2 separate regions of the Homo sapiens genome follow, and region 2 is linked to region 1. The links come from fine-mapping of genetic effects on gene expression. Tissue or cell type: nasal epithelium. Region 1 holds a variant in brackets; the other region holds the start of a gene. All regions are shown on one strand. Distances are between the middles of the regions.

Region 1 (8,000 bases):
ATGGGCAGATTATGAACCAAAAACATAACAAATAAGTAAATTATCTAGTATAGCAAAGACGGCAGTGCCAAGGAAAAATAGGATACTCTGAGGAGGGTAAGGGAGACTGAGAGTGTTGAGGGGTAGTTTGAAGTATTAAATAAGAAGATCAAGGTCGCATTGAGGTGAGGTCTGAAGGAGGTGAGAGATGGCCAGGTGCACACGCCGGGGAGTAGGCTTCCAGCAGAAGGCATGGCCACGCAAAGGCCCTGAGGCGAGACGTGCCAGGGGGTTTGGGGAGGGCAATGAGGCCTGCGTGGCTGGAGTGGAGTGGGGGCTGTGTGGTGGGAGGTGGCGCCAGCCATGGGGAGCCCGTCACAATGGCATCCACTTTAAAAGGACCTCTCAGGCCGGGCACAGTGGCTCACACCTATAATCCCAGCACTTTGGGAGGCTGAGGTGGGAGGATCACTTGAGCCCAGGAGTTCGAGACCAGCCTGGGCAACATGGTGGGACCCCGCCTCTACAAAAAATACAAAAATTAGCCGGGCGTGGTGGCGCAGGCCTGTAGTCCCAGCTACTCCAGAGGCTAAGATGCGAGGATGGCTTGAGCCTGGGAGGTCGAGGCTGCAGTAAGCCAAGATCACTGCCACTGCGGTCCAGCCACAGTGAGTGACAGAGTGGGACCTCTCTGGTTGCTGTGTTGAGAGTTTGGGGTGGGAGGCAGGAAGTGAAGGTGGGAAAAGTCAAGAAAATGTCTAGGAGGGCGGGAGAGTGCAGCATGGTTGTCTGGAAGCCTTAGGGGCCTCCTTGAGGTTCACGATCATGGACTTAAAGCGCGTCCAGTCGGTGTGGATGTGTTCTTCTCCGGCCATGCTCAGTGCACTGGCCGCGCAGGGACAGAGGGGAAGAGGAGCTGGATCTAGCCAGAGCGGTAGATGCGACAGAGAGAGGAGAAAAGCTGGGGTTGAGGAGCCTGTGAGGGAGAGATTGTGAGGGCGACCATGGAACTCAGGCTGGGGAAGGAGTGCCTTGAAAGGCAGTAAAAAAGCGGCAAGATCAGGCCAGTTTGTGGGTCACAGGTGAGACATGCCACAAAGCCCAGCCTGCGCTGAGTGCAAGGGGGTGCATGGCAAGTCACCTCCGCAGCCCCAGGGAGCTCACCATGCACCTGATGCTGGCCTGGATTTTCTCAGCTCACTCACTGATGCTGTGGGCCTGACCCTCTGGGTCTGGAGTCCTTGTCACACTTGCCCTCATCCCCAACCTTGACCATCCCATCCTGGGATGTGCTCTCTGCCCAACTCACCACACCCCCACGTAGAAAGAAGTTGTATTCATCCATGTTGAGCTTGCCAGAAGTCTCCAAGATTTTGGCACACATATGAAAACTGAATAGTAGTTTGTGGCGTTCGAAAAGGGTACGGCAGGTGTACCTGGGAGAAAGGGACAGGGAAGAGGGAGGGGCAGCATGGAATGGGGGCTGATGCTCCATGCGAATGCTATGATGCTACTATCACACAGCTTCACACAGAGGACCTCACCAGCCTCTAATCCTAACCTCCTGGAAACAGCTGAGGACTCAGGGGCCTAGACACAAGAATTTCCCAGAGTCCACTTATTATTATTATTACTTTTTGAGACAGAGTTTCGCTCTTGTCACCTAGGCTGGAGTACCATGGTACGATCTCGACACACTGCAACCTCCACCTCCCAGGTTCAAGCGATTCTCCTGCGTCAGGCTCCCAAGCAGCTGGGATTACAGGAGCCCATCACCACGCCTGGCTAATTTTTGTATTTTTAGTAGAGATGGGGTTTCACCATGTTGGCAGTCTGGTCTTGAACTCCTGACTTCAGGTGATCCACCCGTCTCAGCTTTCCAAAGTGCTGGGATTACAGGTGTGAGCCAACGTGCCCAGCCATTCACTCATAATTAGTCATTCAGTTCCATTAAAAAACAAAACATTCATTATTCCCCTACTGTCTTGCCAGGCACTCTGCTAGGTCCTGAAGACACAAAGATGAATAAGCCACAGTCTCGGAGAGGACAGAGAGGCCATCAGTTATGATGTCCCTGCCTGCTGGACTTGGAAAGTTTCCGAGGAGCTGCCCCAAGCTGCAGTAGAGTTTTCAGGTGACATGGGAGAGGCAGAGAGATCACAGCATGAGCAAAAGCATGAGAAGGGCACAGCATGCAGGGCAGTCAGGGACGCTCAGGCCCCCAGTGCAAGGTGGGAAAGGTGAGGCTGAGGCAGGAGAAGGCCAGGTCCTGAGGGCTTTCGTGGGCCACAGGGGCCAAGCAACCAACCACTGGCAGTCAGACCCGGGAAGCGGCATGGGCAGATTTGTTCAGGTGGGCAATACAGGAGGGTGGGTTGAGAGGGACAGTGGGTAGAGGCAGAAGGACCTCTAGGAGACCATTGTGCAACTCAGAAAAAAGGATCACCAGGGCCAGAACTAAAGTACAGCCAAGCAGTGGGAAGATGGGGAGGGAACAGTTGCAGAAATATTCATGAACAAAACCTGGTGACTGCTTTGAAAGGGAAGAGTCAAGGATAACTCCCAGTTTTTGCCAGGCGTGGTGGCTCATGCCTGTAATCCCAACACTGTGGGAGACCATGGCAGGAGGATCCCTTGAGCTCAGGAGTTTGAGACGAGCCAGGGCAACATAGGGAGACCCTTTCTGTACAAATAAAAATTATAAAAAATAAAGGATAACTCCCAATTTCTGGCTTGGGTGACTGGGTTGTGGGTGTTGGTGCCATCCAAGGATGAGGACCCTGAAGGAAGAGGGAAGAGAATGAGTTTGATCTGAAGTGAGTTGAGCTTGAAGGGTCTGTGGGATGTCAGGGTAGAGAAGTCCAGTTCCTTGCTGCTCAAATGTGATCCACAGACCAGGAGCAGTGGCACCCCTGGGAGCTTGTTGGAGTTGCAGAACCCAGGCCCCACCCCAGACCTGCAGAATCCCAACCGGTACTTTCACAAGATTGCCAGTGCACTTCCTGCCCGTTAACATCTGGGCAGTGCTGGTATCTCCAACAGTTGTGTAGACAAGTCCAGTGCTCAAGGGAGGGCTACAGACACAAGACAGGGAATCATCAGCCCACAGGTGATGGTTAAGCCATGAGAGTGAGGAGCTACCAGGAGGACATATGCCAAGGACAGCGGCAGGCTGAGAGCCGCGGTGCGGGAAAGCACGAAGGTGCAGTGGCCAGAAGAACCACAGCCACTCGGCCTCCGGGCTGGGGCATGTTGGGGGCACCCTCAGACCTGTAGACAGCGTAGGTGTGGTAGTCATTCAGGTAGTCAATGCGGTCCTCCAGCTTATTGCTGCGGTGGCTTTTGTCAATGCTGAGAATAAAGAGGCTGATGTAGGCATCCAGTGAGAACTGGTACATGGGGTCGATGCAGCCCATATCATTGAGCACGAAGAACAGGATTGATGCCCGCTGGGCGCATGGGCGGTAAGCCTGCCGGTGGGGATGGGTGGAGTCAGGGCCACTGAGGGACGTGGCAGGGAGCAGGGGCTCAGGGAAGGAGGGGTCTCGAGCCGTCATGATGGAGTTGCATCTTGGATGGCTGGTGGGAGGCAGGACTGGAGGGCCGGGAGCTTACCTCCCGCGCCAAGTCAGTGTTGATCTCTGTGGTCTCACTGGTCTCCAGCTGCTCAGTCACCTCTGTGGCTGTGATCTTGGAGGTATGCAGCGTGTTCACCAGCTGCACATCATCCAGCAGGGAGCCGGTGGCCTCATTCAGCAGCCTAGGGGGAGGCCCAGAGGCACATGGAGCAAGGGGTTAGCGGGACCAGGCTCCCTGGGATGCTGTTGTGCCTGGGGTAGACTGGGTGGAGGCTGGCTGGGAGTAGACCCGTGGGGCAGTGGGAGGGGAAGGCAGGGCCTCACCGCAGGATCTCATCCTCCAGCTCCTTGAGCTTCCTTTTACCAGCCGCGATGTTGATGACCAGTGAGTCCTTCTGCTCCTCCAGCTCAGGCCGCTCCTTCCGCACCACAATGCCCAGCAGCTGGGCCTCCAGGCCCTGGGGGCATCAGGACTCACAGTGAGGGGCTGTCACTCCTTCGACCTTCACCTTCCTCATCTCTTTCCACCTTGAAAGACCCCTCATCCTCAGCTGCCCAACACAAGCTTATCCCTTTTCTCAATCCTTCCAAACTCTTCCTGCTTCACCCTAGCTCAGTCTGGACCTCAGCCTGTACCCACCTGTTCTTTAACAGCAAAGTTGACGATGGTGGTCTTGGCTGAGGTCTCTGGGCTGTAGTGGGGGTTGGAGAGCTTGGTGGTGATGTAGAAACGGAAATTGGTATTATATTCCACCTCCTTATCGCCAATGCGCATCAACAGCCGACCACCTGCATCCACGGAAGGGTCAGGGGCAAGGACTCCATGTGATGGGTACCAGCTAACCCATCCCCCACCGGCATCCAGGGGCAGCGACT[C/T]AGCCTGTCCTAAGGCCCCAGGCCAGGGCTGTCTGAATGGAGGGACAGGTAAGAAGAGGACACAGTCAGAGAGCCAGCCCTTCCCTCCCTAGCATCCCACTTGGCTGGTCTTGGGGACTTGTCCTGACCGATTCGGGCTACAGATTTGTTGAGCATGGGGTTCAGTGTGGGGTCCAGATATTCCTGCACGTTCTGAAGTAGCACCGGGTATCCAAAGTGAATGGCGTGTTCTAGGATTCGCAGGTAATCGCTCATCTGCAGGTCGATGATCTTCAGGCCCTAGAGAGCAAGGGGGAAGGTGAAGGAACACTACGGGAGAGGTGGGGCCTCAGGAAGGGGGGGGCTAACCTGACCCCCCAGCCTCACACCTGGCCTCCTTCCATGTTCTTAATCCATTTCAGGGCCTGGGCCTGAGGGTCGATCATCAGTGCCCACCTGGAAGGGGAGTACAGGTCAGAGGTGAGGCCCTCTCTCCCATGCTCCCGTACCGCCCCCACGCCCAGCAGCACCCTCACCTGTTGCCTCGGGTGACGATGATGCCATTCTCAGTGGAGAAGGCGTCTGAGGGCAACCCTTGGATGTTCCAGTCCCGGACTTTGGTAGGATTGCACAGGAAGTTATCGATGGCGAAAGAAGGGGAGCAAGGAACCTGAAGCTCCCAGATCTGGGGAGAGAAAAGCCCCATGCTTTAACTTGAAGAGCTGAGCCCAGCAGCCCCCGCGCCTTCACGGTATCTCTTAATATTCCCAAAGGTCCTGCCCCCAGCCCTGGTCTCGGAGCCTACTTGTCATGCCTGAGTCCCATCTCACCTTCCCGATCCAGATTTGGTTGACAATCTCATCCCGGTAGTTGGTCAGGAAGGGTCCCATGTAGGACAGGAAGGCAGCTGCCAGGAGACAGTCCCCCACCAGGTAGCCCAGGTCCTCCTCCAGGCCCTGGCGGACAGGAGGGAGGGTAAGCCTGCCTGGGCCCCAGCACTCTGGGAGACACTTGGAATGCTTTTGAAGGCACCCTCTTCTGGACACTGTCAGGTTCAAAGAGGATCTTTCCCTCCCCTAAACCTGTGTGTCCTGACAACTCTAGCCTGGTTCTAATTACTTTTGAGTTCTCTATCTCTAATGGCAATGTTTACATTCTGGTGATAAGGCCTAACCTTTCTGTGAAGCCAGGAGCTCACTGAGGGGCAGAAGCAAGATGTGCTGTGTCTGTTTTCTGTCTGGTTGTTGGGCTACATCAAGAGTCCTTGTGTGTGCTTCCCAGCCCTGCCCAAACACTGAAGCAGATCCCTAATAATGCAAAAAGCCTTTCCTTCCATTGCTCTCACCAAAGGTGTGCAGGGGGAGGGGAAGAGCTCCCACGCCTCAGTTCTTAGAGTTCCCTATACCCAGGTGTCCCCGTTTTCCCTGACTGCTCCTCAAGCTAAAAGGGATGGGTCTCTCGGAAGTGGCGAGCAGAGTGAAAGGACACCAGGTAGTACAGCTGATCTCACCTGGACTGTCTCCTCCCATCTGGCCTTCTCGCCAGCCAACCCCGACACGAGCATCCCAGCTCGCTCCAGCTTCAGCTCCATCTCTTCAGACTTCTTGCGAAGCTCCTCCTTCTGTGCCAGCTTCTCATCATACTGTTTCTTTAGCATCTCCAGTTTCTCAGCTACCTGGGAGAGATTCGAGTATAGCGCATCAAACACAGGGCTCGCAGCCAGATTGTTCTTGTTCACATCATGACTCTGCCATTTTGTAGCTGCCATTTTGTAGCTTTGTTAAATTAATCTCTTTGAGCCTAGTTTCCTCATGTTGTAAAAGAATACCTACCCTATAGGGTTATCGTGAAGAGTAAATGAGATAAAATACGTGAGATGAGGTGAATTTTCTTCCCCTTCCTTCCACCACCCTTTCCTAGAGCCCAGAAACTACTTGGTAGTTTCAGGGTAGCTGGGTAGGGGACGGAGACCTCTTGAAGCATAATAAGCCACACAAGATGGTGGCAAGTGAAGGCCAGACAGCACATAAATGACTGCCACTCCATGCCAGAGGCCATACCTAAGGTGGAACCTTGAAAGAGGAAGAAAAAGAAAGAAATGAACCCAAGAGCTGTTAGAGGGAGAGTCCATTCGAGACAAAGAGCTGGCTGGGCGTGGTGGCTCATGCCTGTAATCCCAATACTTTGGCAAGCCAAGGCAGAAGGATCACTTGAGGCCAGGAGCTTGAGACCAGCCTGGCGACATGGTGAGACCCCGCCTCTATTCAAAAAGTAGAAAATAAGAATAAAAATAAAAAGACAAAGGACCAAGTGCAAGGTCCCACACTAGAGATGGAGGCCTGGGCAGAGCTGTGTATACTAGAGAAACCCCTCTCAAGTCATTGCCACCTGTGGACTCTGTGGAGGTTGGAATGAATATATATATATTCACTGAAATCTGAAGGAGAGAACTGATAGAGCCTTGTCCCAAGATCCTGTATATGTGTGTGTGATCCTGTATATGTGTGTGTGATCCCGTATACGTGTGTGTGATCCCGTATACATGTGTGTGATCCCATATATGTGTGTGTGATCCCGTATATGTGTGTGATCCCGTATACGTGTGTGTGATCCCGTATATGTGTGTGTGATCCTGTATGTGTATGTGATCCTGTATATGTGTGTGTGATCCTGTATATGTGTGTATGATCCTGTATATGTGTGTGATCCTGTATATGTGTGTGTGATCCTGTATATGTGTGTGTGATCCTGTATGTATATCTGACCACCCAACAGCAGTTGTGCCTGGTTACAGACTGTATCACCGTCCTTTTCATCATGAGGAATATGGGGTGGGGGATTACACATAGCATTTACACGATACATGTTCCCTTTCCCGCTGCCACCTCACTGGGAAAGGCAGCCCACATCGTGGAAATAGTTCCACTACTAGAAAGTAGAAGTAGCTCTGCCTTAACTGAGTAATTCTGGTAAGTTTCATCCTTTCGGAGCCTCGCCAAGGTGGCTGCAGGTAAGGGTGATGTGGGCTATGGCACGGTGCAAGGCACACAGCAAGCAAGCACTACCTGACCCAAGCACTTGGAAATGGGAGAGATCACTCTCCAGAAGATATTCTTTAAAACAACATGGAGGGCCAGGTGCGGTGGCTCACCCTGTAATCCCAGCACTTTGGGAAGCCAAGGCAGGCAGATCACCAGGTCAGGAGTTCCAGACCAGCATGGCCAATCTTTTTTCTTTTTCTTTTTTTTTGTCTCAAAAAGAAAGAAAGACATACATGCACGAGGTTAAAACCTAAATGATATAAAAGAGGTTACAGGAAAAGTAGCATCTAGACCACCTTTCCCACAGCCAGACTTCTTCCTCTGAGGCAAACTACTTTGTTTGTTTGTTTGTTTTGAGACGGAGTCTCGCTCTTGTCTCCCAGGCTGGAGTGCAATGGCACATCTCACCTCACCGCAACCTCTGCCTCCTGGGTTCAAGCGATTCTCCTGCCTCAGCCTCCCGAGTAGCTGGAATTACAGGCATGCACCACCACACCCGGCCAATTTTTGTGTTTTTAGTAGAGGCTGATCTCAAACTCCTGACCTC
Region 2 (8,000 bases), 100 kb after region 1:
CCCATCTCTACTAAAAATACAAAAATTAGCCGGGTGTGGTGGCACACGCCTGTAATCCCAGCTACTCAGGAGGCTGAGGCAGGAGAATCGCTTGAACCCAGGAGGTGGAGGTTGCAGTGAACTGAGATCGCACCACTGCACTCTAGCCTTGGCAACTGAGAGAGACTCTGTCTCAAAAAAATAAAAAAAATAAGCTGGGCATGGTGGTGTATGCCTGTAATCCCAGCTACTTGGGAGGCTGAGGCACAAGAATCACTTGAGCCCGGGAGGCAGAGGTTGCAGTGAGCTGAGATTATGCCAATGCACTCCAGGCTGGGAGACAGAGTGAGAATTTGTCTCAAAAAAAAAAAAAAAAAAAAAAGAAAGAAAGAAAAGAAAGCTTGGAGCTGGGAGAGGCAGAAATCCTTGCTGTTCGAAGGCCAACACATTCATTTTAAAGCTCCTTCCCTTACCTCCCCAGAGGATTCTCCATACTGAACCTCACTGTCTTCCCTCCCATCTTCCCCTACTCCTCCTAGCAGCGAGCAATCCCATTTTAACTGCTTTCACCTGAGCACTTCAGAACTCAGAAGGATACATTCTGCACATTTCTAAGATCCTGGAACCTAATGCAAGTTCTTATGGCCCAGGGACTTTTCTCCCATGCCCACGCTTAACCTCTCAACCTTTAATTTTAGAAGGGGATTCTATTTCACAAGCTACTATCAGTGTAAAGGAGCTCCAGGTAAAGAAGGAGGTCTACACTTAGCTCATAGTCCTGTCTACACTGACCAGTGCTCTCAGGGAGATCCCAGCAATAGCAACAACTACCAAAAACCTTCCAACCTTACTGGCTCCGGCTCACCCACAGGAAAGGAATCCCTCAGGTCAAAGCCACAAGAGGCTGCCTCGTTAAACTCTTTCCTCCCTAGATCTAGACTTCTTTCCTGTCATCCTGAACCTGAACCTCCGCAGTCTACCAAGTCCCTGCCAAAATGAGGGCGGAGATAGAACAGCCCTCAACAGATGGTAGAAAGCATCAGCCGGGCTTTGGATTCAAAGGGTGGCAAAACAGGCTGAGTCTCCATGGTGATGGGCTTAATGGGAGAAAAACATTATTTGTTTTGCCACCCAGGGTGAAAATGGGAAAAAGGAAGAGATCAAACCCTCTTCAGTGGGGTAGGAGCAACCAGGAACACTTGAAATAAGGAGGAAGAGGCTAGAGAAAGGACTGGTTGGTGAACTCCTGGTATATTGTGGGAAATTTTAAGACAGAAAGAACAAGGATGAGGCTGGCCAGGAGGAAGACATACAAAAAAAGGACTCAGTGGCAGGGCTGCTGAACCTCCATGGCTGGGGGCGTCACTTAGCCCGTTTCCTGCCCAGAAGCAACAGCGCCTGCTCCCCAGCCCTAAAATGCCTCCAAGCCCCTCTGACTTTCCCCACCCTCCATTGCTAAGCATCCTCTGCCCCAGCAAGTACCCACCAGGCTCCTCCTTGGGGAGCTCAGCCTGCAGCTCTGGCTCACTGACAGCCGGGGCATTCCCCTGCTCCTGTGTGGCCACAGCAGCCCGAGTGGCCCGCCCTGACCAGCTTGCCTGGGAGCTTCCTCGGCCACTCAATCGCTGCTTCTTCTCAGCTTTGCTGGACATCGTGCAGGCAAAACCTACAGGTATACAGGAGTGGAGAGTCTACAAGCAGATACCACCCCTGAACCAGCCCCCTGATACAAGCAGTCCCTTTTGAATTCATAAATTGACTGAAACTCAATATGATCATCTTTTCTGGTGGTACCCACACCCTGCTCCATTAACCACAAGGGCTCTGTACTCCACAGGGGCCTGGGAGGCCTTGCTGTTTTTCCCTAGGATATCCTACTGTCTTCGGGGCACTGGGCTAAAAATCAAAGTCAGTCCCTCAAGGCACTAGGAACAAATGGGAGTTAAAGATGATGGCCAGGCTGGGTGCGGTGGCTCATGCTTGTAATCCCAGCATTTTGGGAGGCCGAGCCGGGTGGATCACCTGAGGTCAGGAGTTCGAGACCAGCCTGGCCAACATGGCAAAACCCCGTCTCTACTAAAAATACAAAAAATTAGCCAGGAGTGGTGGTGCGTGCCTGTAATTCCAGCTACTCGGGAGGCTGAGGCAGGAGAATCTCTTGAACCCGAGAGGTAGAGGCTGCAGTGAGCCAAGATCATGCTACTATACTCCAGCCTGGCTGACAGAGTGAGACTCTATCTCAAAAAAAAAAAAAAAAAAGATGGCCAGACACCCCACTAATGAGGATTTAGAACCTCTATCTCTGCCCCGGGGTATGAGAACATAAGATAATCAGGAAAAGATCTATCAAGCTGAAGTGTGGTTGCCCAAACCCTCATCCACTCTACCCTCCAGGACCATGAGTGAGTGAGAGAGGATCAAGGAAGGGGTGCACATCCCCCATCCTTTGTCACTGTTCAATCATTCAAGCAAACCAAGATGATTTTCCTATGTACCTCTTTTCCTCCCAAGTTAAATGGAAATATGCTCCTCCCAATCCCACTAAAATCTGCAACATCTGTAAACAGAGAAAAACAGTATTTGCCACCTGGGTCTATCGCTTTGAAGTCCTGAGGGGCAGGAACACTGTTTTGTGTGTACTGAGGTCTCTTAGCAGAGTTGGCTGAGGAACTCTGTGCTAATGGTTAAGATCAGTCAGGATCATTTATTTGACTCAAAATGCCCTGAGAACAGATTGGAAGAAAGAAGGACAAAAGTCATCCAATCATAAATTTCAAATTGTGTCATGAGGAAAAAGCAATTGGGGCACGAGGAAGGTCACAGTGGTGCCTCTCTCAGAAAGGTAGGATGGCAGGAAGCGGGGATCTCGGACAGGTGCTCAGAATCCCAGGCGCAAAGTCTGAGGCGCTGGGCACTCTCTTTTCATTAGGCTGCAGCCTAACGGCACCTGTGGCTCTCCTTCCTCATCCCCACAGGCTGCCACAGGCATTGATCTCAGGTTATGAATTTCAAACTTGAAGGATTTGTACTTTGCTCCAAGGAAAAACGTTCTGTTAGGCCAGCAAATCAATAAAACCAACTACAGCAAGGAGGCTTCCTCCATCAGTCTCCAGAGAAGCATCAAGCTGCGCTTTCCTGCCTCAAACTAGAGCCTGAGGCGCATGCACCGTGGGGTTCACCACGCGATCCCACACCGCAGGCCCCAGGAGGAACTGCTCTGCTAAGTCGGGGCTCACTCTAGTACTAGGAAATACCGCAGGGGCCAGCAGTATTTATCCTGCAGTATAAATCCAGCAGTATTTATCCAGCAGTATTTATACCAGCAGCTGGTATCCTTAAACTGGTTACCAGCAGGCAAATTTCCCCTCAGAATGGCTCTTCCCCCCCAGCTGTCACAACTGCCCCTTCTCCTCCCCCTCCCCCACACAAATATTCCTTGCTCCCTCTCCCTCCACAACTGCCTCTTCTCCCCAACAACTGTCCCTTCCTACCCCGACACTACTGCCCCTTCTCCCCAGCACTCCTTCCCTCCTTCCCTCTGCCCCCGACACACACCTTGCCACGCTGACCCTCCCCTCCCTAGACCGACCGATGGGCCACTCTAAGAAGTTGCCCCTCGCAGCCCTCTCGGGCCGGCGTCTGCACGCGTCCCCATGGCAACCCCGGGCAGGGAGGGGCGAGTGGCCGGTGTGCGGCCCCTCGGAGCCCGCCTCCTCCGCGCAGGCGCCCTGGATCCCTGCTTCGCGGCCCCACCCCGCCCAGGTCTACCCCTCAGGGACCCAGGGCTTGAAGGCTCCGGGACTAAAGGAAAGTAGCCACATCTGGCGAGCCGAAGGGTGCGGGGGGCCTGGTGTCAGGACCCAGCTGGAAGGGCTGGGGCGAGAGACAGTGAGCCACCGCCCCGCAGGACATTGAAAAGGCAGGGAGAACCCAATCGCCCGACCCCGCGCCCAGGTCTGTGCGCCCCAGCCGGAACGGGTCCAGCAGATGGCGCCGGGCGCCAGGCCGGCGAGGGATATTCGCGATGTAGAAGGCGTTCCAGGATTTCCAGGCAGCCGTGGGTGCAGCTGGATCCGGGGGAAAAACCGGGCCTGGAGCACCCTTGCCCTCCTGCTCCTTCCCCCTTCTTAGTTCGGATTGGGGTCTAGGATTGCGGGGGGGCGGCGCGGGGCGGGGAAAGGGAGGGAAGACGGGAACTGGAGTTTTGGGAATCTGAGGATTGGCTTTCGAAGGCATCGCTGGTTTTTGGGGGGGATGAGAGGCGGGGACTCCCTGGGGAAGGTGACCGGGCCTGGGAGGGGCTTCGCTCTCCATAGGAACAAAGGCTGCGTCGTGAGAGAGGAGGCGAGAGGGGAGGGCTATGAGGGCCGGGGTACATCTCCGAGGGTGCCAGGGGGCGCTGCGGGCCGGGGCTGCTAGAAGGCGCCTGGAAGACCGCTGTACCTGGTGCCGGGAGGAGCTTTGGGGAGACCTGGGAAATACAGGGAGGAAGCCGAGTGGGGGGATGGGAAGGCGCCCTCCCTGTTTCCATCAATAGTGCCTAATTAAGACAAAGCCAGCAGCGAGCCCACTGATTACATTTCCATGAGGAGCGAAATTTATGACATTTTCTTTGCTGGATGAGGAGAAGAGAAGCTGGCACCTCAGTTCCCCCATTTTCTGTTTGGCGTTCACACCTAACAGATCTCATTATGCCAGCCTGGCACTACCAGGAGTGGCAGTCCCTGGTACTCCTGAAGAGCAAGTGGATTAACCACACCCTATCCCAGCGCTGACCTCACCCTCCCACCTACCGTATCTTTATTCCCAGAAGTGTCAACCCTTTCCCTCCCCCCGACCCCCAATAATTCCTCCTGCCCAGCCAGACTCCTGTTGCTGACAGCAGGAATGGAAGGAGAGGAGTACCGCCCACCCCAAAACCAGCTGCACAGCTAGCACAGCTAAGATGGAACGTGGAGGTGTTCCTCTAGCCAGATAGGCCATGGGTGGCAGACAGAGGTGATGTGGTTGGCCAGAACCCCTAGGGAAAAGTCCCAAAGGAGTGAAAATTTGCTGGAGGCGTGGGGTGGGGAGCCTCAGGGGCAAGGTTCATGGGTCCCTCGGGGAAAGGAACTTTGCACAGACCCCATTTCTTTTCTTAAACCCCCCTCCCCAACTGTGGCTGTGCCTACGGATCCCAGCCCCCCACATTATGCTAAATAGGTAATCAAACATCTCGCTTTGCTAATTACTGCTCAATCCGATTAAACGCTGCTGAAGCTCATCAACAGAGGTGGAGGTAGGGGGAAGGGACGAAGGCGGGGCAACCACAGCTAGCTATGATGGGGGTCTTTTCCCCAGGGGCTCTTCGGGGCTAGAGAAACAGCCAGGGTTGCAAGACCGTGTACATCCCAAAGGAAAGGGCAGAAGAGTTGTGACCTCGAGCCTCAGCCTTGCTGCACCTCCCAGCCACGGCCCTTTTCCTCCTCCCAGAACCTTCATTACCCTCCGAACCCAGGCATCCGGCCATTCCCACAGCTCCCCACACACATCCCTGTCCCAGATTTAATAAGTTCTGTTCCCTCATTGTCAATATTTGATTTCTCAGAGCCATCTCCACGGAGAGGGGGGTGGGGGATCTTTCCTTGCCTCCCCCCTACTTTGGCCCTCTTTTGCCCACCCCCAGTCTCTTTGTGCCCCCAACCTTCTCTGAACTTGCTGACTTAATGAAATGATATTAAAGTCTTAAGCAACTCCAAAAGAATGGTTGTTATGGTGAAGGGAGTGGGCAGGACGCCTGGGTCCCGGAGGGGAGCAAAGGCTGAGGAGGGGGAAAGGGAGCCAGAGGCTAAGGTCTAGAGACCCCAGTCCCTAGTGGGGAACAGCAGATTTGGGGTGAGCTGGGGGCCAGACCTCTGGATCTTGGCTGGAAGCAGGGGATGAGGACTGGGGGCTAGGAGAAGGTGGAAAGAGAGGTCCATTCCAGGGGTCAGGGTCTCGGCCTGCTGTCCGGATCATTCATCAGAGACAGAGGCCAGGGGAGACAGGGCCTCTATGCCAGCAGCCTCCCTGCCGGCTGTGCCCTGGGCTGGTCCCGTGAGAACCAGAGTAGATTACTCTACAGCCTGACTCATCCTTCTCCCCCAGCAGCCCCCCACAGGTGATTTGTAGCTGATGCCCCCACGATGGTAGGGGCCAGGATAGTCATTCCATGACATGAAGAACTGAGAGCTTCCAGGACAGAAGAGAACAGAGGCCAAGGGAAAGGAAGCCAAGCACCCCCCTTCACCTCCCCCCACCCATCCCCATCTCCCCTGGGGACCCTGGCCCAGCCCCAGTCCCCTTGGGGTGGTGGGAATGCAAGGACATTTGGCTGGGGCTGATTGATGAGGGAGGAGGCAGCCACCGGGCACTGAGGCTGCTGTTTGCTGAGCACACAGATTCCTCCCAACTCACCAGCTGCTACCCCCTGAAGCAGCTCAGTCTCCCCCCGACATCACCCCGCCAGCCACTGGGGTTGCGGTGCCTGAGTTTCTGATGGCAACTGGAGGAAGAGGGAGAACCAGAAAACTGAACACTTCGATTCCCTGTGGGAATTGGGGTACCTGGGGCCTGGTCCCCTCAGAACTCCCTTCAGAACTCCACTTTCCCTGCTACCTTTCAAGTAGCTCTCTGGCTGCCCAGTTGTCATTCCCATTCATTCTGTGTCCCTTTTCCTTCCCCCACCCAACTCTGAGCCTATGCCAGACAGCCTCCTGCCTCCAAACCACCGTGTGACATTTCTCCCAGGTCTCAAAACTCTCCCAAGCCCCATGTCCACGGTGGCCCATATAGCCCCTTAGGAAGGGCCATTTTTCATTCTAATTAAAATTCCAGATATGATGTCAACCATTCCGCATCAGAAATTCCCACTGCAAGGCCAGGCACAGTGGCTCACATCTGTAATTCCAGCACTTTGGGAAGCTGAGGTGGGTGGATCACCTGAGGTCGGGAGTTCAAGACCAGCCTGGCCAATGTGGTGAAACCCCATCTCTACTAAAAATACAAAAAATTAGCCGGGCGTGGTGGCACATGCCTGTAGTCCCAGCTACTCGGGAGGCTGAGGCACGAGAATTGCACCACTGCACTCCAGCCTGGGCCACAGAGCGAGACTGTCTCAAAAAAAAAAAAAAAGAAAAGAAAAAGAAAAGAAATTCCCACTGCCACTCCTTGCCCCATTCCCCTTTCCCTAAAAACCCCCAACACACACACACACACACACACACACACACGCACACACACACGCACCTCGGGCTGAATAGTATCCCTCAGCTGCCGTTATTTGGAAGGAGGGCAAAGCCTGAGCTTCACTCTACAGCTCAGCCCCAAGACAGCCTCAATCCTATGCGGTTTGGGGATGGCAGGGCGACAGCTCTAGCTTCTGTGGTCCCAGCCCTCTCGGTTCCTTTACTTCCGCTCTGCCTTCCTGCTCTGGACTCTGCCAGCAGCTGTGCCACAGCCCCCAAAAAAGCTCAGAGCATCATCCTTGCCCTCCCAGAGCTTAAAATTTAGACGAGGAAAACACAAGTCACAGACACACAAGAAACAAAAGGCAAGGGGATGGGAGACTGAGTGAGATCAACTTCCTTAATGTGGATCCAAGACCCTAAGTGACTTACTCCCCTCCAGGCCGAGGCTAGGGAAGAACAGGACACATCCGAAACATGCATGTGGTGGTGATGTCCTTCTTACTGTTCCCAAACACACCACAATCTCACCTCTGTGCCCGTGCACTTGCTGTTCCTCTGTCTAGCATGCCCGTCCCCAGTGTGCATGGCTTACTCCTGTCTCATGACTTAAGGTCCTGATCAAGGGCATCTCTTTCAAAGGGACCTTCCTGACCTCCTCATCTAAAGCAGCTCCAGGCCGGGTGCGGTGGCTCATGCCTGTCATCCCAGCACTTTGGGAGGCCAAGGTGGGCTGAGCACCTAAGGTCAGGAGTTCGAGACCAGCCTGGCCAACATGTTGAAACCCCGACCCTACTAAAAATACAAAACTTAGCT

What was found. PIP is the estimated chance that this variant, and not a neighbour inherited with it, causes the effect.
Region 2: it holds the start of DNAH2, and the variant in region 1 is fine-mapped to the expression of DNAH2 in nasal epithelium (TOPMed, PIP above 0.99). The same link has a PIP of 0.9 or more in testis.

What each region holds. Positions count from the first base shown.
Region 1 is chr17:7,814,658-7,822,657 of GRCh38, reverse strand. It overlaps DNAH2 (dynein axonemal heavy chain 2), which reads right to left. Exons shown (of 86, transcript NM_020877.5): 64 at 5,923-6,087; 65 at 5,243-5,368; 66 at 4,949-5,097; 67 at 4,802-4,868; 68 at 4,562-4,712; 69 at 4,198-4,346; 70 at 3,882-4,015; 71 at 3,595-3,739; 72 at 3,250-3,449; 73 at 1,289-1,415. Among named protein-coding and RNA genes, the nearest start is that of KDM6B, 16 kb to the left of the region's middle. The variant C/T (reference allele first, on the strand shown) is at 4,434.
Region 2 is chr17:7,713,366-7,721,365 of GRCh38, reverse strand. DNAH2 (dynein axonemal heavy chain 2) reads right to left here and starts at 3,622. Exons shown (of 86, transcript NM_020877.5): 1 at 2,567-3,622; 2 at 1,466-1,645. The coding sequence starts at 1,631.